7 linked regions of the Homo sapiens genome follow. The protein of the gene in region 4 purifies or fractionates together with the protein of the main gene of each other region. This does not show direct contact. Each region holds a gene or a part of one and is shown on either strand. Other genes may lie near its edges.

Region 1 (3,500 bases), on a different chromosome or scaffold from region 4:
CCATTTTTTTAAAGCCCTTTCTAAATGGACAACAATGAAAATGTTTATAAATATGTTTAAACCTCAATTATGTTAAAAGTAGGAAAGCCACCACCTTATGTCACAAACTCTGGAGACTATAGGCAGACACAATTTTAAATCAAGTGAAAAACCAAGTCTTCAATAATCGAGACTCTTTTGCTTGAGAAGATGCTAAAATGTTGTAGGAGCAAAAGGAACAGTGTGGAAGAGACAGCTGAAGAAAATACAAAGGGATATTTACCTAACAAAATGGAAGAATTATTTTACCACAGCTACTTAACACTGTCAAGGACATTTAAAAATCAGTTGAGTGAGGAGGAGCTCTATGAGATGGGATAAGACAAGAAGATATGATTAAAGGAAACTGTTGAGGTAAGAATTTTGAGGATAGACCAATGATATAAAAAGCTAAAAATTCATAGTGGCTGCAGTAAGCAGAATTGACACTGTAGAAAGAGGGAAAAAAACATGGAGTAAAGATTTCAAAATCATACAGAATGCAGAAAAGGGATAAGAAATAAGACTAAGAGAAGCTGATCTAAACTATGGAGAACAGAAGAACAGATAATTGCTGTGGCTGAAAAAGAGCTGAATAAGTCAGTAAGAATTCATTGGATATTTATTTTTGAAGTTGATAGTACATTTAAACATTTTATTCAGAGACACATGTATTGTCACTGGTAAAATGAGAGCAAGCTGTATATGGTCCAAATTGCCAGCTCAAAAGCCAAAAAAAAAAGAAAACCCAATTCTTTTTTTTTTTTCATATAGCAAAAGAAAGAAAATAGGAAGGAAGCATTAAAAAATGTAAAGATTAAATAAGATGAATGACAAGACCGAATAGCTGTTAAACCCCATGTAACTTGGGTATTCTCATCTACTAAAATCTCAGATTGGGTTAAAAAAACAAAACCTAAAAAAAATAGTCTAAAACTTAAATGAAAAAGATGGGCAGTGATATTCCAGGGAAATGTAAATAGGAGGTTGAAAGGGTTGCAATATTATGACCCAACAGAATTGAAGAAAAAAAATATTACATAGGAGTAGAAAACTTTGTAATGCTGAACGGTACAATCTACCCTAAGATGTAACTCTCTGGAACTAAATAGCACATTGAATATACCGATGAAACATACAAAAGAAACCAACCATAGGGAAATAAAATTGACAAAAGATTACAGACATTGTATGGATATAGATTCCTGTCTGGAATTATTCTCCTGGCTCACTAGTAATGAGAATTACCTCTAAGTATGAATGAATACTTAAAATTTTTTTCTCTAATTTCTTTGGGAGACAGAGTCTCCCTCTGTTGCCCAGGCTGGAGTGCAGTGGTGCGATCTTGGCTAACTGCAACCTCCGGCTCCCCGGTTCAAGCGATTCTCCTGCCTCAGCCTCCTGAATGACTGGTATTACAGGCGCACACCACCATGCCCTGCTAATTTTTGTAATTTTTAGTAGAGATGGGGTCTCACAATGTTGGCCAGGCTGGTCTCAAACTCCTGACCTCAAGTGATCCACCTGCCTTGGCCTCCCAAAGTGCTAGAATTACAGGCGTGAGCCACCGCACCCAGACATCTCTAATTTCTTTCTGACAGTTTTTCTGTCTATACTTTACAACCACTGCATCACAGTTCTTTGAATATGAGGTGTTCAGTCTGTTAAACCTACCGCCTTTTGCTCTCAGCAGACAGACCATCTTCTATTTCATAGAGAAAATAGAGGGTGTAAGACATAAGTAACCTTGCCTTTCTGCCTACCTTCCCTCACCTACAAACAATTTGTTTCATTACTAGTAGAAGACATGTTTTTTGTCCTAACGCTAATGCTTGCCATTTTTTCTCCTTCTCTTTTAAGTGTCAACATCATGTCTCAGGTGATTAACAGACCTGTATCTGAAGCTCAGGTCTGTCCATGCTCACACCCACAAAGCCACCTGCCTCCTGGACATCTGTCTTCCTGGGATGTCCATCAACATCTCACACACATTCTCAAATTTGAACGCATCACTTTCCTCCCTGATCTTGCTCCTCCTCTGGAATCCCTTCAGTGAAAGGAGCCATACGCTCCAGGAGGCACATTTCCTGAGGGCTGTGGTTGGTGATTGGCAGGGAGTGTGGTTGTAGTGACCTAAAAGAAAGTCTTTGTGGGTTCACCTGTATTAGGGTTGTTTTAGCTGTGAACAAAAACATTTTGTCATGTTATCTATAAAAACCAGCAGTGTAATCATCCTTTTGGCAATGGAACATTTGGGAGAATTATCTACTATATGATTGCTACTTTTTGGCCCCCAAATCACACCTTTGCTATGATTCTTGGGGTAGAAAGATAATTTCTCTTCACTTTGAATATGTGAAGCAACATTCTCCATTGCCCAAAGAAGACGTAGACTCATAAAGAACAAATTTTAAAATCCCCTGGAAAACAGTAAAAACGTTAAGATGGGAACCACTATGGTAGGGAGTTGGTGCTGGTGGCGCTGGGCTGTGGCAAGGGGAGCAGGGGTGTACAGACAGGCTGTGTCTATAAAAGAGCGGACCATGCATTAGCCAGTTGTGGTCATGCTTTTACTCATTGACAGCAATACTGTATCTTCACAAAGCATTGTGAGAAACGATAATGATTGGTTAGTAATATATTTTAGAAGGATGTGATCTCCTAAGTAAAAATAAACTCAAGTTTCAGAGAATTTTAAATTGCCCTTTTCTTACTCATTAAAAAGTAAGAAGAAACTCTATTTTTACTATCTTAATTTGGAAGAGTTTAAAAACATATATTTTTTTCATTAATTGGGTATTGTTACATTTCTCCTGTATTTTTTCTTATATTTTCTTGTGTAACTTTAGTGACAAATTACTGTAGAGGCATCTGAATTTAGGACTCTTGGAAGGGAAGGGGATGGAGGTAGGAGGGATGGTGCCAGTGAATGATGTCTGTCTGAGAGAGATTTATGTTTATGAAAAAGGAAGTGAGTGGATTCCTAAGATTGTGGTTTTAAGGCCTGAATATTGCTTTAAGAGTGTTTAGAATTGTTGGGGCCAGGATGAAGGTTGAGAACTACAGGTTTGAGATCTTAAGAAAAGCCAGGACCAGAAAGATCTGTTCTAGTTATTTCCAGCTACGGGATGCAGCTGAATGTCATTTGAAAACATTTTTCTCGTTTTTTAGCATCTTTGACTGAAGGCGAAATCTTCATGCCTTGGAGGGAAATTCCTAGTGCCACAGCATAAAAGGACCAGCAGCAGCAAGTGTGATATAATTACTGATGCCTTTAAAAGATATGCGAGCCCTTTGGGTATATACCCAGTAATGGGATGGCTGGGTCAAATAGTATTTCTAGTTCTAGATCACTGAGGAATCGCCACACTGACTTCCACAATGGTTGAACTAGTTTACGGTCCCACCAACAGTGTAAAAGTGTTCCTATTTCTCCACATCCTCTCCATAAAGACACATGCACACGTATGTTTATTGCGGCA
Region 2 (3,500 bases), on a different chromosome or scaffold from region 4:
TTATTATAGAGCCAGCTGCTTGCAAATTTTGAGTATAGACGTATGTACTTTACATCTTCATGAAAACCAAATCTTATGTGGCATATGTGCCAATCTTCATGGTTAGTCCAAGTCCCCAAAGTCCTACTTTTAATAATAAGATTTGGAAAGAAAGCAATTAGCAAGGGTAACCAACCAGTAGCCTTGAGGCAACATTTGACTTACCAGAATTTTATGACTCCTTAGGAGTTTTTCTTTTTTTTTTAAAGAAAAAAATTTACAAAATATATTAATGTTACAATTAGAATATGATGTCTTTTGGAAAACATAACAGGGAATATCATTTACATCACGAAGTCTTGACTTAGTAACAGAGGAAGTAAGACTAAGAACATAAGAAAAATTTACTAACTTTATTAACCATTTAGTGTTCACGCTAGGGAATTCTGACCCCAACTCTGGCGAAAAATTTCTACCCTTGGGATAAAAGTAAAGTTAGAGAAGCTATTTTATTGACTGATTGACTAATTGATTTTTGAGATGGAGTCTTGCTCTGTCGCCCAGGCTGGAGTGCAGTGGTGCAGTGGCGCCAACTGTGGCTCATTGCCACCTCCATCCCCTGGCAATTATCCTGCCTCAGCCTCCCTAGCAGTTGGGATTACAGGCATGCACTACCACGCCCGGCTAATTTTTATATTTTCAGTAGAGAGGGGGTTTCACCATGTTGGCCAGGCTGGTCTTGAACTCCTGAACTCAAGTGATCTGCCTGCCAGGCCTCCCAAAATGATGGGATTACAGGCATGAGCCACCATGCCCGGCCAAGAAGCTACTTTAATAGTCCATAAAAAGAAAACATTTGAAAGTCATTTTCTACTTTAAAATCCCTGCACTTAAAGATGAGACAAATTTTCCAGAAACAGATGATTACTGCTTGTACAAAACATCTTCCTTCTGTCTATACCTTTTGTGATTTAAAATTCATTTCTCAGGCTACCCAGTAAACAAGTCAACTACCATTTAATATTCTCTAACAGGCCTGGTATGTAATAATGTACTATTCAACAACTGATGGCTAGCAATAAAATGTGTGTAGAATATTCTTACCCCACTTATTAGGCACCAAACACCTCTAATCTTCCTTTTATTGCAGCATTTTAGAGCCTTTATTCCTTACAAAACTCAATGACTATAGACTATGCTAAATATTTTACATAGGTTATTTTATATAATCCTCAGAACAACCCAATGAGGTAAAAAATCGTGTCAGAAAACTTGAGTCTTAGAGAGGTTGAAGAGCTTATTCCAGAAGGCTGAGGTGTAATACAACTTAGTCTAAGGCCATACTCTTTTTTTTTTTTTTCTTTTTTTTTTTGAGACGGAGTCTCGCTCTGTCGCCCAGGCTGGAGTGCAGTGGCGCGATCTCGGCTCACTGCAAGCTCCGCCTCCCGGGTTCATGCCATTCTCCTGCCTCAGCCTCCGGAGTAGCTGGGACTACAGGTGCCCGCCACCGTGCCCGGCTAGTTTTTTGTATTTTTAGTAGACACGGGGTTTCACCGTGGTCTCTATTTCCTGACCTCGTGATCCGCCTGCCTCGGCCTCCCAAAGTGCTGGGATTACAGGCGTGAGCCACCGCGCCCGGCCGCCAGAGCCCATACTCTTAAGTATTATGAGACTTCCCCACCGAGCTACTAAGGTAGGCAACTCACCGAAGCAGGAACAGGCTCCTGGAATTCAATACTTAATTCATGGCAATAGAGGTAAAGCAGAAGACGTTCACATTTCTGGCCCAAACAAGGAAAGGAAAGCACATGAAATATTTTTCTCCTAATAAAACATTCTCGAGAATGAGAACTATATCACAACAAAGTTTGATTACAACAAACTGAACACAAGCCCCCTGTTTACTAGATACTCAACTAAACATAAACACCCAAAGAAAATTCCCTTGCTTCTCATTTTGTTTTCAGACTATCTTTTGTTCTACTTTAAGTAAGAATGGAAGATAACTAAGGTAATTTATGGAAGGGAGTCACAAAAGCAACATCTAACACTTTGTGCAAAAATTTATAAATTACTTGGTAATAAATAAATAAGTAAATAAATTATCACTGTTGCTCCTCATGGTAATTCCTTAGACAGGCAAGACAAATGTTGAAAGTTATCATCCCCTTTCTTCAAATGATTCCAGTCAGGTTCAAAATGAAAATGGCCTTCTCAGTCTAACTCCAAAAATATTTTTTTACCCAATCATGAGTAAACTGAAATGCATTTTACATTCACAGTCTTCTATTTATCTAAACTTCTTTTAATACAAGTTTGTATACCCTAAACACGTATCTTGTCTTCACAGATAGTGGATGAGGGTTTTTACCAGTATATACACCAGAGTAGAGCCAAACTTAACTCTAATGACCACACGACAATGCAAAAGAGTCTGTCTTTGGCAATCAGACTACAGGCCAGATTGGTAAAAATCTGAGTAAAGTAAGGAGAGAGTTTCCATTTTTAATATGATGAGAAGCTATTAGAGGATTTTAAGCAAGGAAATGATAGACTTGTTTACTTTTTTAAAAAGAACACTGTTTAATACAGAAAACAAACTATAAAGGTCAAGAGCAGAAGCGGGGAGAGCAGTTAAGAGATCACTACAATAGTCCAGATGAGAAATTATGATGTAAGGTAAGAAAATCATATTATAGTTATTATTATTTCATTTCTAATAGGTTTCTAACCTGAGCAACAGAAATGAATGGTGGTATCATTCAATTAAGGGGAATACTGGGGGAGGAATACAGTTTTTTATGTCGTTATTTGCTTGGTTTTGTGCTTGGAGGGAGAGGATTAGAAATTAAGATTTTAGTTGGGACATGTTAAGTTTGAGGAATCTGGATAGAAGGGTCTGTAGTTCAGGGTTAGAGGAAAAAAAGACTTCAGAAATCATCAATATACCATCAGATGACAGGATTAAAAATTAAATGTTATCAGGTTTTGTGTATGCTACACAGGAAAAAAAAAGGTGTATATATAGGCAGACAACTACTGAATCCCAGTGACAAATCAACTTATTTGACACTTACCCTTTGGTCCACGGGGCTTAACCCCTGCGCAGTTTTCCCCTTCTTACTATGTTGCAAATTATCACAATCATATTCAACTTCTGGCTTTCCAATATCTCTACAAAATGTGCATATCCAGTCCCCACTAGACAGGGAAATAGGCAATTAGTCCACGTAATTATAAGAAAGCCTGCTCTAGAGAAGCTACTTCCCTGGACTGGGGCCTGGTTTATTTTCTTAATAATTTTTTGAAAAAAGGGAGGTTTTATAGTTGTGAAATCTCGTCAGGTGAAGTCATGTGATTAAAAACTCCTCTAAATTTTCCTAGTCACGCATCAATTGATTACTTTCTGGAATGCATTATAAAAATGGCACCTCCGCATTAAAAGGGGGTCTCTTAGTAGTGATGAGCAGTACTTGCAGCATAAGGCCTAAGACCAATTCTCTCAGATCCCAGTATCACCA
Region 3 (3,500 bases), on a different chromosome or scaffold from region 4:
TTACCCCAGGGGCGCTGGTAGCTTTCTTTGTCTAGCATTATACTCAGACCACAAGAACACCTAGGGGCCAACCGGACGGTGGACAAAGAAGACCCAGTAGATCCGTTCGTTCCTAACCCTAATCTGTTCCCTGGATCAACACAGCAACCAAGAGGACACCACTTGCTGCCTTGGGTTAAAGGAAAAAGCATTTCAGGTACATCCACTAAGTCGGTGGTCCACAAATACAGGCTTTCCGCTGGTCAGCAGCACAGTAAGAAAACACATACACCCCTGTGAGATTGCTGCCTTTTTCTGGAGATGAATTCTTATTCTGCAATGTGTACTTCCTAAGTATTTGGTGTTGCAATGTCCTTTATTCTATGGCAGAGGGCACTGACCTTAAGAGAGGGGTTGGCAGGTGAGTGTGCCCACCTCTCATGCCATCACATCCCCCCCCTCCCAACATGACCTCTCAGCAGGCGGGACAGGTGCCAAGGGTCAGCCTCCTCACCTTGCAGCTGATTCTAGCCTGATCGCACCAGGGAATGTGGGGACTATTGCTTCCCTAACTATGCAGCTTCAAATCCTGGTCCAGAGGTCAGGGCTGCTCTTAAGAGTCCCGTGTGTGGCCCCAATAGATTTTTTTTTTTTTGAGATAGAGTCTTGCTCTATCACCCTGGCTGGAGCACAGTGGCACAATCTCAGCTCACTGCAACCTCCGCCTCCTGGGTTCAAGCGATTATCCTGCCTTAGCCTCCCAAGTAGCTGGGATTACAAGCACGCACCACCACACCCAGCTAATTTTTCTATTTTTAGTAGAGATGAGATTTCACCATGTTGGCCAGGCTGGTCTCAAACTCCTGACCTCAAGTGACCCACCTGCCTTGGCCTCTCAAAGTGCTGGGATTACAGACATGAGCCACTGTGCCTGGCTGCCCCACTAGATTTTTCTGTGAGTTGCCCCAGAACAGTGGGCAGAGCACCCCTGCCAGGGCTCCCACCTTCCTGATGGCGCTGCCCTGGGGGACCTGGAGTGTTTATTCAAGAAGAGCAAGTATGTCAGCATGTGAATAAAACAATTTGGAAATCATTACTTCAAATGCTCTTTATGGGTTCTGTAGAAAAAACAAAAAGCATAATAACACTGTACCTCAATGTATTTAGTTTATGATCTAATTATATAAAAACAAACAACTGGGAAACAGATTACCTCAAAATACTCTGCACCTTGTAGCAGTATATCCACTTGGGTCAAGTATTTCCTTCTTAATTCATTTTTCAAAGGGCTTTGAGGCACTGCAGGCTGATCAAAAAAGAGAAGTCAGAATTTTTAAGAGCTTCTGAGTATAGCTGACCTTTTGGCTTCTGGAACAAACTGGCAAGCTCATTAATGTACAAATCTTTACATGATCCTACTCAAAGTCACTTTCACCTCCATGATGTTATTCAAAGTCACTTTTTCACTTCCTGCTATGTTAATAATCCAAAAGAATGTAAAAAGACACACACACACAAAAAAACCATGTCTAGAGAAGTTTATGACAGCATTGCTAGACCAGGAAAAAAAAAATCTGAATATTCATAGGTGAGTTCAGGACTCAACTACTGGTAATAACTTCAAACTGGTAAGTTTATAAGAAATTCAGTGCTCCTGGCTGGGTGTGATGGGTCATGCCTGTAATCCCAGCACTTTAGGAGGCTGAGGCAGGTGGATCACTTGAGGCCAGGAGTTCGAGACCAGCCTGGCCAACATGGTGAAAGTCCATCTCTACTACAATACAAAAATTAGCTGGGCATGGTGGTGGGCGCCTGTAGTCCCAGCTACTTGGGAGGCTGAGGCAGGAGAATCGCTTGAACCCAGGAAGTAGAGGTTGCAGTGAGCTGAGATTGCCCCACCGCACTCCAGCCTGGGTGACAGAGTGAAACTCCATCTCAAAAGAACCAAAAACAAAAACAGAAATTCAGTGCTCCAGCTCAGGAGGCTCTCCTACCCCTCCCCTGCTAGACACTGGAAATAGAGGGCGTCACCCTCTATCCTCTGCTGAGTGGGGCTGGCACTTTGGTTCTTGACTCTTGGTACCACCCACTTCCCCTTTGTTCCAATCCCTACACAATCTCTCAGTGAGCATCCACTTTCTTCCCCAGGACCACGGCCTTTTTCTTAGTCACTGAAAGTCACACATGGGTGCGTGGGAAACCCTCTGCACAAAAGTAGCAATTTTAGAGGAAAACCATGCATCAGGTATTCTGGCAGGCAACAGAGTGTGACACGGGGGCCAGGAAAGATGCTGGAGCTGGTTAAGCTCTGTGTAAATTCGCATCTATCCCAACCAAGGAGGATAAGAAGCACATCCCATAAGAAAACGGGTGGTTTCTGTGACCCAGGGGGCACTCTGGGAAACAGACATATAGATGACACTTACTGTTTGGGTTAGTGACGGCTGCCCAATGAGGCGACCTTGTGACTTGGGGCATTTGAGGACAGACCTGGAAATACTCCCTAGAACACCTCTCTTTTTACCCTGCCCCTGTAGGGGAGACTGACCGAGAGCCCAGCTTTCCTGTCGTGTGCTCATCCAGGCAGATGGCGCCCTGCCAACCACACTGACAGCTTTATCTGCAGAGTGAAAATCATCGTGAATCAGGCTTGCACTGGGGGTAGAACTGGCTGCCAGGTGCTAGACTGAGAGGAGGGCCTTACCGCTGAAGGGAATCGACACGAGGAAATCCGAGACTTGGAAGTAGCAAAAGCCAGCCTCAGGAGAGGACTTCCAGAAAAGTGCAGGCAGCGCTGCCCGCCTCAGGCCACATGGGCTTTGATGGACCCCTGAGCCCCCAAGCGCCCCCTCTGTCCATTCATTACTAAAGGCAGCACTTACTGCTAAGGCCCAAGCAACTGACTCTTCCTGGTCTGACGTGGCATCGACCTCACCGCTTTTTGAATCTAAAAGTCAAACAAGTAAATCTCAATCAGGATTTTCAGGAAGGAGTGCATTTTCCTCTCAAGGATGGTTTTGGCATCACTTCGAGTAAGTTGTACAGTAAAAATCCCCATTGCTTCAAGGGTGCACCCACTGGAGCCATCTACGGCTGCCCGTGGTTCTTAGTAACCCAGAGAACCCCTAGAATGGGAAACTGCCTGGGGCCATGGAGTGAGGAAAGGCAGATTCTGCACCACCTCCAGCTTTCCATGGCCTCTGAGCCTGGAAGTTGAGACGCTCAAGCCCAGCACTGCTCGACAGAACTTCCGGTGACCATGGAAAGTTCTCTGCCTGCTGTCCTAGGCCAGCCACTAGCCACACCGGGCTACTGAACAGCTGGGATGTGGCCAGTAAGGCTGAGGAAATGGATTTTAAATTTTATTTCACTTTCAACTAATTTAAATATCATCCAGAGAGGGCTGGTGGGTGCCATACTGGGCAGTACATCTATCAAATAACTATTTCCTGTGATTTCAAGCGGTTGGGGAAATTCATGGACCTAAGGATTTATAGTTAAAATCTGGATTAATAGCAGTA
Region 4 (3,500 bases):
TTTCCAATGACATTGGCCTCTCTGTGTCATAAATCAAAATCCCACGGGTACATTTTGAGACAAATGTTTCCATCAGAATCATTTTGACACAGGTCACTCAACTTAAAGAAACTGTTTTTAGGCGTTCTGCCTATTTGTCGAACAAATATGTACTGGGCTGATATGGTCTGGCTGTGTCCCCACCCAAATCTCATCTTGAATTGTAGTTCCCATAATCCCCGTATGTCATGGGAGGGACCCGGTGGGAGGTAATTGAATCATGGAGGCAGTTACCCCCATGCTGCTGTTCTCGAAATAGTGAGTGAGTTCTCACAAGATCTGATGGTTTTTTTTTTTTTTTTTTTTGAGACGGAGTCTTGCTGTCGCCCAGGCTGGAGTGCAGTGGCGCGATCTCGGCTCACTGCAAGCTCCGCCCCCTGGGGTTCACGCCATTCTCCTGCCTCAGCCTCCCAAGTAGCTGGGACTACAGGCGCCCGCCACCACGCCCGGCTAATTTTTTGTATTTTTAGTAGAGACGGGGTTTCACCATGTTAGCCAGGATGGTCTCGATCTCCTGACCTCATGATCCGCCCGCCTCGGCCTCCCAAAGTGCTGGGATTACAGGTGTGAGCCACCACGCCCGGCCACGATCTGATGGTTTTATAAGGGGTTTTTCCCCCTTTTGTTTATACTTCTCCTTGCTGCCCACCATGTGAAGGATGTGTTTGCGTCCCCTGCCGCCATGTTGTAAGTTTCCTGAGGCCTCCCCAGCCATGCTGAACTGTGAGTCAATTAAACCTGCATCCTTTATAGATGACCCAACTCGGGTATCTCTTTATCAGCAGGGTGAGAACAGACTAAGACATGGGCACTGCTAGTGCAGGCCCTGCGGATGCAGCAGAGGATGAAAGCAGCAACACTGCAGCCTCAAGGAGCCAGGTGTCTGCAGAAGAGGCAGCTGTGGGGTGGGCCTGGGACAGAAGAAGGGCTGAGCCTGGAGAGGCCTGTTCCTCAGCCTCCCTTGGGGAGTTTTATTTTTCTTTTTTTGAGACAGAATCCTGCTCCGTCACCCAGGCTGGAGAGCAGTGGTGCAAACACATGGCTCACTGCAGCCTTGAATTCCTGGGCTCAAGCAATTTTCTCGCCTTAGCCTCCCAAGTAGCTGAACTACAGGTGCACACCACCACACCTAGCCATGACTAATTTTTGTATGTTTTGCAGAGATGGGTTCTTGCTATATTGCCCAGGCTGGTTTCAAAATCCTGGGCTCCAGTGGTCCTCCCACCTCAGCTTCCGGAGTTGCTGGGATTCTGGGGTGAGGCCCTGTGCCTGGCTTCCTTGGGACTCTTCTAAGAGCAGTTTCCCACCCTCCTCTTCACTGGTCCCTCTGCTGGACCAGCCGACCAAAGAGAGGGAGGCCATGGGGACTCAATCTGTCCCTGGCCATCAGCACTTTTTCCCATGTGACAGGGAGGTCTCGGAGCCACCATACAGGGTCTCAATGATTGTGACAAGGCACAATGATGCCTGGCATGGCCTGGAAGGGCTACCTAAAGGGTCAGCACCATCAACCCAGCAGCAGGTTGTATGATCGTCAGGCAGTAGAACCTGACAGCTGAGACTGTGGTCTCTGCGGTTAGGTCTGGGTTCAACTCCTAGCTCCAAACCCACCTCTACTACTCACGGGCTGGATGTCTTCAGGGATGAACTCCTCAGCTTCTCTAAACGTGTGTCCATAGGTGGACCTCCTCTGCCCACTCAGAATAGTCTGTGACCGCCTGTTTCCTGGGGCTCTGATGTAACAAGAGCCCCATGCCTGCCACTCTCAGCACCCATTATGGAGGGGCTTGCTGGGCTGGGTGTGGAGTTCTGTGGAGGGCACTGGAGCCCTGTACTGAAAGGAGAGAGCCCACAGAAACAAAGAGGGCACCGGGCCCTCGTTGCTCATTCTCCCTCCCTCTCTCCTTTCTTCACATGGGGTCCACCTGCTGAGCAAGAGAGACATGGAGGTGGAGGATGGGAACTGGAGATGCCTTCTGCAACACCTTATCCATTCCTTCCTTCATTCAACAAGCACTGGGGGCTACATGACACACAGAATGCCCTGCAATGGGAGCCTGCACAACACAGCAAGACTTCGTCTCCAAAACAATTTTTTAAAATCAGCCAGGTGTAGTGGTGCGTGCCTGTAGTCCCAGCTACTCGGGAGGAGGCTGAGGCAGGAAGAGCACTTGAGCTAATAAGTTCAAAGCTACAGGGAGCTATGATCGTGCCAGTGCACTCCTGCCTAGGTGACAGAACAAGACCCCATATCTATTTAAAAAGAAAAGAAAGAAAAAAGGATGTTCTGTAATGAGGCTTACCGCAACCACCACATCGGATGAGGAACCTGCAATCCAGCAGCCCTGATAAGACATTCTCAGAAGTCAAGGTCTCAAAACCCAAGCACCTGATCCCAAGGAGCTACTGGAGGGTGTTCTCCACCAAAACAAGAGTGTAAACCAAGGGCGAGGAGGGCCTGGGGAGTGAGGAGGGCTGTCAGCTGCCCAGGGGTCTGTTGCAGCCAGGCAGGTTGTGAGTTTTGGCTGATCTGCAGCCCACACCAAGCTGCACAGGGTTGAGGCTTCTCTGTGTTCCAGAAGCTTCCCTGGCAAAGAAGTTGAATGTGGGTCTCTAAAACCGAGGCCACTGCACCCCATCCACTGTGTGGGGCATCCCTGACGCTCTGATGCTGACACCCATCCATGACACAGGGGAAGGGGCACTGACTGAGGGATCCCGGGGTTCTCACTGACCCTGGGACTAATACGCCCCACTTGGGGGTGAGGCTGAGCTCTGTGCCTCCTTCTAACCAAACCCTAACTCTAACTTTCACCAATACTCAGGAATGGGAACTCAAACTTTGGAAGGTCCTCTTGTTTGAGGCGGAGGAAATTCAGGGCCAAAGGGGGGATGGTGGGGACTCCGTGTATATTTTCTCCTGTACTATTAATGTACAAGCTCATATGGAAGGCTTTTTCCACACTGAAAAGGGCTTCCTTCCAGTGTGGGATCTAGACTGGTCTCCTAAGAAGAAAAGGATGCCCAACAACTTTCCCACATTCTTTCCAATCAAAGTGGCCTCTGTCTTGCCAGTTCTCTCACCCACATCCAGGTTACAGCTCCTCCAGAAACATTTCCTGCCTCCTTTCAACTCATCAGGAGCCTTTTCTCCAGGTGGAGCTTGCTCCTGACAAGAGGTGAGTAATGGCTGGGCCCACTGGCTCACACCTGTAGTCCCAGCTACTTGGGTGGCTGAGGTGGGAGGAACACATGAGGCCAGGAGTTCGAGATCATCCTGGGCAACATAGCAAGACCCCATCTCTAAGAAAAAAAAAAAGAAAGAAAAAGAAAAAAATTAGCTGGGCATGGTGACTCAGGCCTGTGGTCCCAGGTACTCGGGAGGCTGAGGTAGAAGGATCGCTTGAGCCCAGGAGTTTGAGGCTGCAGTGAGCCATGAACATGCCACTGCATTCCAGCCT
Region 5 (4,043 bases), on a different chromosome or scaffold from region 4:
CCATAAGAATTAGACATCTGTGGCCCTGAAACCACAGATACTAGTAATAGTGACTCAAAGAGTAGAAAAAAAATCACATTTCAATACTGAATCATTTTCAGGTCTGTGGTGTATAACTACACAACAAGATTCTATTATAAGCAATAGCATGTTCCTTCCACTTCAAATTATAACCCCCATCAGTTCAATGGTAAGAATTTTTAGTAAATACAGTGGTGGGTGTATTCTTTTTGTGAGCCTAGAAGGGCTCACTTGCTTATCTGGATGCTTTAGCCAGTCAAGGATATAGATAAGGATGCCATTGATATGAATTTGTGAGATTATTTTATCCTAGTCTCACTTCTTAGTGAGTAGACAGAACTTCAATTTCTAACATTTGTTTTATGAAAATTCCTCAACTTACCTATAAAAAAGGTGTAATCAGCTATTATTTCCTTTTAGTAATAAGATTACATTGAAACTACTATAATACTTTAAGATAATAGACAGGAATAATATAATCATCTTATGACATATTAGTTTATTACATGCATAAAACTATAAATGATAAAAATGAAGAATGTAATGAACAGTTTATGTTTTTTTAAAACAAAGTCAGATTTTAAAAGTTGTACACGGAGAGCAAAAATCACTTTACGTACTCATGATTGGCTTTAATATTTCTTTACACTATACATACTGAAAATGTTTACATTTACTAATAAGGAATGCCAAGCGTATCCATCACCATTTGAATAGCTTGCAGGGGATTTGTGATTTCTTCCATGTTATCTCTTCTCAAAACCCAATCTGGCTTAAGTCTGTTAAAAAAAAAAAAAAAGTCTGGCATTAATAAAGTTCTTCTCTTTAGAGTTACCTTCACCTTTTTTCTCTTAACTAAATTGTAGCTACTCCTGAACACATCATTTCCCTTACAAACTGCTCAAAGAGGTGGGAGAACTTCATATTATTGCCCATCACTAGTTCCAGACTATTTCTCTCCATCCTTTCTAAAAAATAATGCTGGCTTCTTTGAAGCTTATGCTATTTAGCTTGACCACTGCCTTTTGGTCATCAGCCAAACTCTCAGTGTCTTATTCCTTGTAAACCTGGTTCTTGTTCTCCTCTTACCTACTGTCACCGTTCTCAGCAACAGCAACATCTATGTGGCCAAAAAGCCAACAACCTAGTCCGTTTTTGCCCCACTTTCCTTCAATTCTACCTCAACCAATCCTTTTTAATATGATCACATACTAGACTTTGTCATCATCAGAAAGTGTGCGACCACTGAAATCTTGAGACTTCCATTCTCCATCCACCATTTCTGATTCATCCATGTCATATGCTCTAACACAGTCATTGAACCAGTTCTTCTACCCCACTGAGATCTCCACTTCATTTGGCCTCAACACATACCCAACATCCACCAGAATGCTGTCCTTACTTTCCTGTGTATCTAGCTCAGGTGCATCAGTATTATCAAAACCTTTGCAAATGCCATTAACTGTTGTCTCTCTCTCCTACCAAACTAGTCTGAAGAATTCTACTTGGATTTCAAATTGAGTCAAAATATCTGCCTTCTCCATTCCTATACAGCTGCATATTACTAAAAATGTTTACACAACCAAGCTGATTTTATTTTTTGCCAATAATTACAAATCTAAAATGAGCATTTGAAATTGCCAGCATGCTCCCTTTCTCTCCAAGATGACTATCTTGGTCCTTTCCTCTTTTCAAACTTCCCCTCCATACCCTCTGAGCTGCTTCTGAGTTGTTGAGTTTATAATCTCAAACTTATTGAGAAAATAGTATCAAACCGAGGGAGTTCATGCATCTTCTCACATAATTCCCTACTATATGCATTTCCATCATCTTATTTTGTCCTGCTAAAAATCCAAAGATATATCAATTGGTGAGTGAACAAAGTGTGGTACGACCATACAATGGAATAGTACTAAGTGATAGAAAGGAATGAAATTCAAATCCATGCATAAACATGAACGAATTTCAAAAGCATTATGCTAAGGAAAAGAATCCAGTCACAAAAAGCTATCTACTATATGATTCCATATATGTGACAGTATAGAAATGGCAAAACTAAAGGTACAAAAATCAGATCAGTAGTTCCCAAAATCCAGGGAATAAAGAAAGAGAACTGACAACAAAGGGGCATAAGGAAACTTTGTGTTACAGAAATATTTTGTATCTCAGTGGTGGTAGTTTCCTAACTGTATACATTTGTCAAAACGAATTGAATTGCATACATTTAAAGGATGCATTTATACTGTCAGTAAATTTTACCTCAAAAGCCTGACCTACATCAAAATTTTAAGAGAATCCATTCATATGTTAGTATGAGCTTTTAAAACATAATGAATATTAAATTCTACCAAGTCCTTAAAAAACATGTAGAAATGGTCCCATTAATATATTTCAAGCAAATGAACTTTACATTATGCTGTGAAATATGCATGCATAAAACCAATTTATAACTACATTATACAGTTTATAATTATGAGTATAATTATAAAGCTAATGGCTGTGTAACCACTCAGGTCAAGAAATAGTGTGTTGTCAATAATGTAGGATTTGTACCTAGTATAGAGAATTGCTAAGTCTCAAGAAGGAAAGAAGGAAGGAAGGGAGGGAGAGAGGGAGAAGGGGGAAGAAAAAAAGGAGGAGGGAGAAAGAAGGAAGGGAGTAAAAACACTAATTAAATGCCATGACGGTTCACCAAAATAAATTAAATCTTTTTGCCAATAAAATCAGAAAATGTCAATCTAAATTTCCAGAAGGAGAAATTTCAAGAATCAGGGTGATTATGGGAGGACTGGAGGTTGATATTTTGGCTAAGAAGGACTTTTGGCACTTCTTAAACAGTGTAGTTTGTCTTTCATGCAAAATAAAATAAATAAAATAAAATGACAAAACTTATAACAAGCTTCTTAGCCTTAGCTCTTAACTATTTAATATAAGAAGTTTGTTGAATAACTATTAAATGTCCAAAGCTACAGTATAATGTTATTTCTTTATTTACCAAGACTGCTTCTTTTAAATTTACCAAACATTCCATTCTTATTCATATGTTGTTTCTCCACTGAAAAGCACATCTTGTTTATGGTAAGTGCTCAATAAATATTTGTTAAATGAATGAATGAACAGTGACACAAATTTATGGACTATATTTAATTGCTTACCTTGAAACTATTCTGGTCCTTACAGGTGTTTCTGGGATAAAAGGAATGCTTATAGAAGAATTCTTCTTTTGCTTGTAAAGTATTCTTTCAGTATTCATTTTATGTTTATGAGCTGTAAGTTTGTAGAGACTGTAAATACGGTCAACAACTTTGGACCTACTTCGTACATCCTACAAAATAAAATGCACAGTTACTAAAAAGTAATAAGAATTAAAATTTTATCTCTTTTAGACTAGCAAAATCAAATATAATAAAAACTATGCAGTAAACCTTTTTTTTTTCTTTTTTGAGATGGTCTCTCTTGCTCTGTCGCCCAGGCTGAAGTGCAGTGGTGCGATCTTAGCTCAATGCAATCTCTGCCTCCCGGGTTCACGCCATTCTCCTGCCTCAGTCTCCCAAGTAGCTGGGATTACAGGCACCCGCCACCACACCCGGCTAATTTTTTTTGTATTTTTAGTAGAGATGGAGTTTCACCGTGTGAGCCAGGATGGTCTCAATCTCCTGACCTCGTGATCTGCCTACCTCAGCCTCCCAAAGTGCTGGGATTACAGGCGTGAGCCACCGTGCCCAGCCTGCAGTAAACTTTTAAGCTTTGAATAATCAAAGAAACCTCACCAAGTTTGGCAGGTAGATTGATTTAAATTACGAGCTAATTTGCAAGGCAATTATAAGGAAGATAAATATTCAAAAGTTGCATACTTAACTCCACACTGAATATAAGAAGGAATTATTATAGTCAACATAGCAATTATAGTCAACACACCTATCATATCCAGTTACCAAGTCTTGAAAAGTTTACCTCTGCAGTTTCCAAAGTCTTCTACTTACCTCTCAGCGACACAATCCTAAGACAAGCACAATCTCTTG
Region 6 (3,500 bases), on a different chromosome or scaffold from region 4:
ATTATTTTTGATTTTTGAGATATTATCCCTTCTAGTTTTTCTCCTACCTTAATGATTGCTCTTTCAATTTCCTTTGCTGGCCTCTCCTATTTATCAGATCTTTAAATGTTTAAGTGCCACAGAGTCAAAAATTTTGCTTCTCCATTGAAACTCCCTCCAAACTTGACCCTATTCAGTCTTCTGGATTTAAATAATATAAAATACTATTGACTCCCAACTGTTTATATCCAGCATTGACCTCTCTCTGAGTTTCAAAGTTGTGTACCATTCACGTGTCTATGACATTTTACTAGGATATCTAGCAGGTGTCTCAAATTAAACATGTTTAAAAAAGAATACCCAACTTTCTGCCCTTACCTCCTCCCAAGCCCCATAACCTGCTTCTTATCTGATTTGCTTCTCAATAAATGATACCACTGCCTATTAAGTTGCTTAGGCCAAAACTTAATCATAATTCTTAGTTTCTTTCTAAATAGAACTTTCCTAAAATTCTATTTAGGCTTTTTCAACTATGGTTCTGAGAAAGAACTCAGCCCTGCTGATCTAAGACTGGATTAACTTCCCTCCTATGCATCTAGAATAGAATAGCACATCCTTAAGAGAACTAAGAAAGATGGGAACCTCAGTCAAGAAAGGCTGCTAGACTGTGAACAAGCCCCTCTATCCATTATTGTAACTCCAGAAAATGCCATCATATTTCACACAAGATAATGTAATAGGCTGTTACTGGTCTCACAATTCCTGTCCTCAACCCTTTTCAGACCCTTCTCCACACAACAAGCAAAGTCATCTTTGTAAAGTGTAAATCAGATTATAAACACCCCTTATTTTTATTCTCTAGAGGCTTCCTCCTTACATCATAATAAAACTCGAACTCCTTTTTGAGGTTTTGCAAGACTCTCCCTGATCTAAATTCTGCCTACCTCTCTCTGACTTCGTCTCCTGCTAGTCTCCTCTCTCTGCTTTCTTTGCCATACTGGTCTTCCTTCAATCCTTCAAATACGCAAAATAAATCCTGTGTCAGTGACTTTGCAGTTTCTGTTCTGTTTACCCAGAACACTGCTTGCCCTAGATCTATAAATAGCTGCCACCTTCCTAAACTTCAGGTCTCAGGTCAAGTGCTGCCTCCTCACAGAGACTTTCTCTGACTACCCCAATAGAACATGTCTCATCTGCTCCTCCCATCCCACTCCTCGGTTGTTTCCTTCACAGCACCTTTTACCCACTGAAATGATCTTTACTTACTTGTCTACACTTTTTAATGTCTGATTCCCACTACTAGAATACAAGATCTATGATGTTAAGAATTTTGTCTTGTTTATTGCCAAATACAGAGTAAGCAATCAAGAAATGTTAGTTCTATTATATAGTAAAAATATACGGAATCAATTTTGGATGAAGAAAAAAGTCACATGTAATTTGTAGTCTTAACTCACTGGAAGAGTGGTATTTAAATATTATTCTTTTGAAAAAACCAGTCATCTAGTTTCCCAAATAACGTGTGGAGAAATGACACTGGGAACATATTACTTACAGTTTCGTATGTAACAATTGGCAACTGATGACTTTGCCAGGAGTTCCATTCCCAAATCCTGCAATCTGCCAGAGTTTTCAGTTCCACATGCAGCCAGAGCTGCCTGGTCAGCAGAAAAAAGGCTTGTCTGCATGTCTCCAGAAGCAGCACTGCTGCTTTTTATTTCTGAAAGTGTATTCTTTACATCAGTTTTCATACATCGAACTTCGGCCATTTGAGTTTTGAGTCTTTTTAGCATCTTTAAATCAGAGGGCACTCGCCACATTGCCTGTTGCTTCCTTTGGTCTTTATCTTTTCGAGAATATGATGCTTCAGAGAAATTGACAAGTCATGTTAACATAAACGTTAATATTAATGAAATCATTTGTACCATGAATATATGCAAATTTGATGTGTAAAATAAGCTAGCGTGCTTTACGTGGTATCAACAATAAAACATGCACTAAATTCCATTAATGAAAATAAAGATAAAGAATCCTACCTTATTCACACCTTCAGAGTTAGAATCTGAGTCACATCATACTCAAGTTCGAATTACACATTTAATTCTAAAAGTTTAAAAGCTGCCCTACTGCCTTGTGCTTTCTTCTTTAAACTTCTCCACTTTTCTGAAACTTTCTACAGAGCTTTTATTATGTTTATAATTGAAAAAAAAGACAAAGAAAAATCTAGAAACCAAATACTTTGTCAAATCTGCCATATATAACATTATATTAAAAATACATATTTCTGGCCAGGTGCAGTGGCTTATGCCTGTAATCCCAGCACTTCAGGAGGCTGAGGTGAGAGAATCGCTTGAGGCCAGAAGTTCAAGATCAGCCAGGGGAGCATAGTGACACCCTATCTGTACAAAAAAAAATTTTTTTATTAGAACTTCCATTTCTGATAATTTTCTCAGAACTGTCAGCTTTCTGAAATACGGTTTGAATCTAACCACTTCTAAAATAAAACAATAGCTCTCCATGCCTAGTATGAATAAATTCCTCCGGCTAGCATGCAAGTCCTTTCATAGAATGGACCCAACATGACTCTAGTTCTACTTACCACTATATGTACCTTAAAATCTGGTTCAACTAGATTACCTGATACCTTTTACAGTACTCCTTTACATGGTTAAGAACATGAAGTTAATCTGACAAATGTTCACTAAATATGTGTTAAATAAATACACAGAAAAAAATAAACATCAAAGCCCAAGCAGGCCACGTGCAGTGGCTCACGCCTATAATCCCAGCACACTTTGGGAGGCCGAGGCAGGTGGATCACTTGAGCTCAGGAGTTTTGAGACAAACCTGGCCAACATGGTGAAACCTGTCTCTACAAAAAATTGTAGAGCACTCCAGCCTGGGCAACAGAGTGAGACTCTGTCTCAAAAACAAACAAACAATCAATCAAACAAAAAATGACCCAAGCAAGCCTTTTCAATAAAAAGAAAGTCATATATTTCTGCACACTAGCTTTTATTAACATCCCTTCACTGAAAGGTATTTTCATTTGGCTTCCATGAGTATTTTTTCTCCTTTCTAAAAGCTCTTTATCTGGCTCATCTTCCTGACACTCAGTAAAAACAGATATTCATCAGGATTATGTTCCTGGCTCTCTTCTTTTAAAATATTCTTAAAACTCCTTTGCAATCTCACACCCTTGGTTTTAATTATCCAGTATCACCTCCAGAAAAATAACTGTCTGTATTCCAGTTCATTTTTTTTTTTCATGGAGTTTCACTCGTTGCCCAGGCTGGAGTGCAATGGCACGATCTCGGCTCACTGCAACCTCCGACTCCCAGGTTTAAGCCATTCTCCTGCCTCAGCTTCCCAGGTAGCTGGGATTACAGGCACCTGCCACAATGGCCGGCTAATTTTTTGTATTTTTAGTAGAGACAGGGTTTCACCATGTTGGCTAGGCTGGTCTCGAACTCCTGACCTCAGGTGATCCACCCGCCTCAGCCTCCCCAAGTGTTGAGATT
Region 7 (3,500 bases), on a different chromosome or scaffold from region 4:
AAACAAATGTTCTCAGAAGTGACAGTCAAGGTGAGGGACAGGGATAGTACTTTAATATTTAAGACAGGGTTTTATTGATTTCAGTCGAGAGAAAGAATAGAAATTTGCTAATCCTAATCAATTAGATGTATCACCTGGTGCGGTGCCTGACTTGGTTTCTGGCATGTATTAATAGTTAGGGCCCGATATTTTATTTGTTGAATCAGATGAATATGAAATGGAAAGGAAAATTCTGCTTTTTTTCACCAGTTTTTAAACTGAGACAAGATAAAATCTGTTTGGATTAGGTGTTTTGTTCAGGGGAATGCAGAATGTATCCTTTACTCTTAACTTGAAGATGATCAAGATATAATCCTTTTAGCCAGGGTGGCAATTTAAACATAAAAATCTCTGTTTTCCAGTTGATGAGTGAATCTTCCTAGAAGGGCACACAACTTTTCCCCTTTCCATGATGGGGTTTAAAGGCCATGTTTACATCTGCCAAGTCTCTGGGTAAACATTTAGCTGCTGTCCCAACAGGCAGTACCAGCATCTTACTCTTTCTTCTCATAGGTAGAACTAGTAACACAATGTGCAGAGCTTTTTGGATAAGGTAGGAGAAAATAGTCAGGTTAAAATGAAAGAGAAAAACACATTTCTCGAGTTTTCCTGGGAGGTTGGACAAGATCAACTTCTAGATTCCTTTCAGTTCAAAATTTTCTGTCTTGACTCATGTGATGATTGATCTGGAATTAACCTTTTTTCCCTCTGCGCCATCAAAACAACAGTGGTAGAATTGGTTGTACTCTGTGTAATACCTATGATGATTAAATGAGATAGTGGAGGGAAAGCCATTTGTAAACAGTACGTTGCTTTTCAAATATAAAATGTTAACGTATTGTGTGGCTGGGCGAGGTGGCTCACGCCCGTAATCCCAGGACTTTGGGAGGGCAAGACAGGCGGATCACTTGAGGTCAGGAGTTTGAGACCAGCCTGGCTGACATGGAGAAACCCCATCTCCACTTAAAATAGAAAAATTAGCTGGGTGTCGTGGCGCATGCCTGTAATCTCAGCTACTTGGGAGGCTGAGGCAGGAGAATCGCTTGAACCCAGGAGGCAGAGGTTGCAGTGAGATCGCACAACTGCACTCCAGCCTGGGCGACAGAGTGAGACTCCGTCTCAAGACAAAAAAAAAAAAAAAAAGTTAACGTATTGTGATTATGTTGCTGATGTTACTTTTATACCTCCTGTAGAATGACTGTTACTGCTTAGTGGTATTGAAATACCTTTTAAACTAGTCTCAATTTATGGAAATACTGGGAGTTGTAATCAACAAGCAGGAAGTCACAAGACTCTTTTAAGAATCTTTTAAAAGCTACGAAAATAAAACCCATTTGAATAATTTATCTATTCAACAAATATTTATGGAGCCCTTACTTTCTGCATGGCCCTGAAAGTCATGCGGGATGAACCCTCAGCTGTAATATCCTCCTTGACTGCAGGACTGGCAGTCGTGTGGCTCTAGAGGAACCTGTGGCAGGACAGGTTAAGTAAGGCACATAGGGGAGGGGGTAGCTTCTGATGTGCTTCTTTGCTTTCTAGTACATTTCTCTCATTTTGTGTGTTTTATTGTGAACTAAAATATAAACTTAGACTTGAAAATGTGACAAGTAAAAATGGTTGATTAGTCTTGGATGCTAATTGTCAATTAATATTCATTGCATTTGTTTATAGTAGCCTCCACCCTCCCATCCACGGTTTTACTTTTCAAGGTTTCAGTTAACCATGGTCCACCGAGGTCTCAAAATAAGTGAGTAAAGTACAATAAGATATTTTAAGAGAGAGAGAGACCACATTCATATAACTTTTATTACTGTATATTGTTATCATTGTTCACTTTTATTATTAGTTATTATTAATCACTTACTATGCCTAATTTACACATTAAACTTTATCATAGGTGTGTGTGTATAGGAAAAAATATAGTGTGCTCTGTGCTATGTTAGTTAGTTCTATGATAGCTCAGTACTATCTGTGGTTTTAGGTATCCACTGGGACTTGGAATATATCCCCCATGGATGAGGGGAAACTACTGTACCGTGTTGGGGATTTTTTATTTATTTATTTTTTTTTTGTGACAGAGTTTTGCTCTTGTCATGCAGGCTGGAGTGCAATGGGGTGATTCTCCTGTCTCAGCCTCCTAAGTAGCTGGGATTACAGGTGCCCACCACCATGCCCAGCTAATTTTTGTATGTTTAGTAGAGACGGGGTTTCACCATGTTGGCCAGGCTGGTCTCAAACTCCTGACCTCAGGTGATCCACCTGCCTCGACCTCCCAAAGTGCTGGGATTACAGGAGTGAGCCACCGTGCCCTGCCAGTGTTTGGGATTTAATAAGATTAGATTTGATAGGTTAGTTTAATAAGATTTCTTTGTATAGACTGGTGGACTTGACCTATTTAGTTTCTTGGTTATAGGCTGTATCTGCCATCATAAAAATGTATGTCTCAGTGGGGAAGATGTGGTGAGAGAATTGGGTTGATCATCACAAATCTGTCACCATTTGCAGGATAAAAACCAGCTAACTAACCAACAATAGAAACCCATGATGTGCTACAAAGGGTAGAGCCCACAGGCACTATGAAATTGTAAAGGATCCTACTTGAAAAGAGGAGTGAAGGTACATTTGTGATTTCATATTATGTTCAGTTATCTGTGAACTGAACTTCTTTATTGATAAAAAAAAAAGTACATTGTTTCGTTGTTTTTAACCCTGAATATCTATGAACATTGTAAGTTGTATTTATTGTGACTAACTTTAAAGTGATAATGTAGGTCACTTTTTAGTCTAAATGTCGAGTGGATTAGGCAGTCATATTAAATATTCCTTTCTTAATAATTTATAAGATAAAAATTATCTGAGCACAATAAACAGATCTACCATATATGGAGTTCATATAGCAAAAATGTTTTGAGCAAATCCGTACCATTAGGTAGGAACTTTTCTACAAAGGTGTTAAGTCTGGTTCCCAAACTTCTGTGGCTCCAGTCTAACAGTATGAGCCCTAGGAGAGGACACATAGGGACCTTGATTCATGCCCTCCAGGGGCTTGCATTCTGAAAGATGCCAAAGCCACATGCTTGTTGGCATGTGGGCAGTGCTCAGGTCGGGGGTGAGAGGAGATAAGTATATGAGTTATAATCAGGAGGGCAAAATCAGTTAACATTTATTGAACACTTACTCTGTGCCAGTGTTCTAAGTGCTTTGCATGTGTAATAGCATTAAACTGAGGCTCAGGGAGGTTGTGTAATTTCCTCAAGTTCACACAGCTAGCAAGTAGTTGAACTGCGCTTGTGGCCCCAGGGCCCTCCCTCTTCATTGCCTTCCACCTACAAGTAGTTCCCTTGTGCTAGGCAGAGGCTCAGGCAGCTTGGTGTTAAGGCAGTTGGGATGCACTCAAAATTTTTAGTATATTGCTTCTTAAGTAAACAGGTACAGAAAAGTGGTCCTTGACCACTACT

What was found.
Region 1: the proteins of ZNF333 (region 4) and MRPS9 purify together in Homo sapiens (co-immunoprecipitation; one large-scale study listed by IntAct). This does not show direct contact.
Region 2: the proteins of ZNF333 (region 4) and TRIM33 purify together in Homo sapiens (affinity purification with mass spectrometry; one large-scale study listed by BioGRID and IntAct). This does not show direct contact.
Region 3: the proteins of ZNF333 (region 4) and HJURP purify together in Homo sapiens (affinity purification with mass spectrometry; one large-scale study listed by BioGRID and IntAct). This does not show direct contact.
Region 5: the proteins of ZNF333 (region 4) and ASPM purify together in Homo sapiens (affinity purification with mass spectrometry; one large-scale study listed by BioGRID and IntAct). This does not show direct contact.
Region 6: the proteins of ZNF333 (region 4) and TRIM37 purify together in Homo sapiens (co-immunoprecipitation; one large-scale study listed by IntAct). This does not show direct contact.
Region 7: the proteins of ZNF333 (region 4) and ARL15 purify together in Homo sapiens (affinity purification with mass spectrometry; one large-scale study listed by BioGRID and IntAct). This does not show direct contact.

The regions. Positions count from the first base shown.
Region 1 is NC_000002.12:105,044,569-105,048,068, forward strand, and holds part of MRPS9 (small ribosomal subunit protein uS9m), read left to right. Parts: intron 1-3,500.
Region 2 is NC_000001.11:114,399,704-114,403,203, forward strand, and holds part of TRIM33 (E3 ubiquitin-protein ligase TRIM33), read right to left. Parts: intron 3,181-3,500; coding exon 3,057-3,180; intron 1,761-3,056; coding exon 1,686-1,760; intron 1-1,685. UniProt on the Homo sapiens protein: Acts as an E3 ubiquitin-protein ligase. Promotes SMAD4 ubiquitination, nuclear exclusion and degradation via the ubiquitin proteasome pathway. According to PubMed:16751102, does not promote a decrease in the level of endogenous SMAD4.
Region 3 is NC_000002.12:233,844,536-233,848,035, forward strand, and holds part of HJURP (Holliday junction recognition protein), read right to left. Parts: intron 2,927-3,500; coding exon 2,862-2,926; intron 1,286-2,861; coding exon 1,193-1,285; intron 1-1,192. UniProt on the Homo sapiens protein: Centromeric protein that plays a central role in the incorporation and maintenance of histone H3-like variant CENPA at centromeres.
Region 4 is NC_000019.10:14,700,048-14,703,547, reverse strand, and holds part of ZNF333 (zinc finger protein 333), read right to left. Parts: intron 3,343-3,500; exon of another isoform or gene 1,664-3,342; intron 1-1,663. UniProt on the Homo sapiens protein: May be involved in transcriptional regulation.
Region 5 is NC_000001.11:197,083,627-197,087,669, forward strand, and holds the end of ASPM (abnormal spindle-like microcephaly-associated protein), read right to left. Parts: intron 3,347-4,043; coding exon 3,177-3,346; intron 801-3,176; coding exon 698-800; 3' UTR 501-697; downstream 1-500. UniProt on the Homo sapiens protein: Involved in mitotic spindle regulation and coordination of mitotic processes.
Region 6 is NC_000017.11:59,026,881-59,030,380, forward strand, and holds part of TRIM37 (E3 ubiquitin-protein ligase TRIM37), read right to left. Parts: intron 1,844-3,500; coding exon 1,535-1,843; intron 1-1,534. UniProt on the Homo sapiens protein: E3 ubiquitin-protein ligase required to prevent centriole reduplication. Probably acts by ubiquitinating positive regulators of centriole reduplication.
Region 7 is NC_000005.10:54,304,074-54,307,573, reverse strand, and holds part of ARL15 (ADP-ribosylation factor-like protein 15), read left to right. Parts: intron 1-3,500.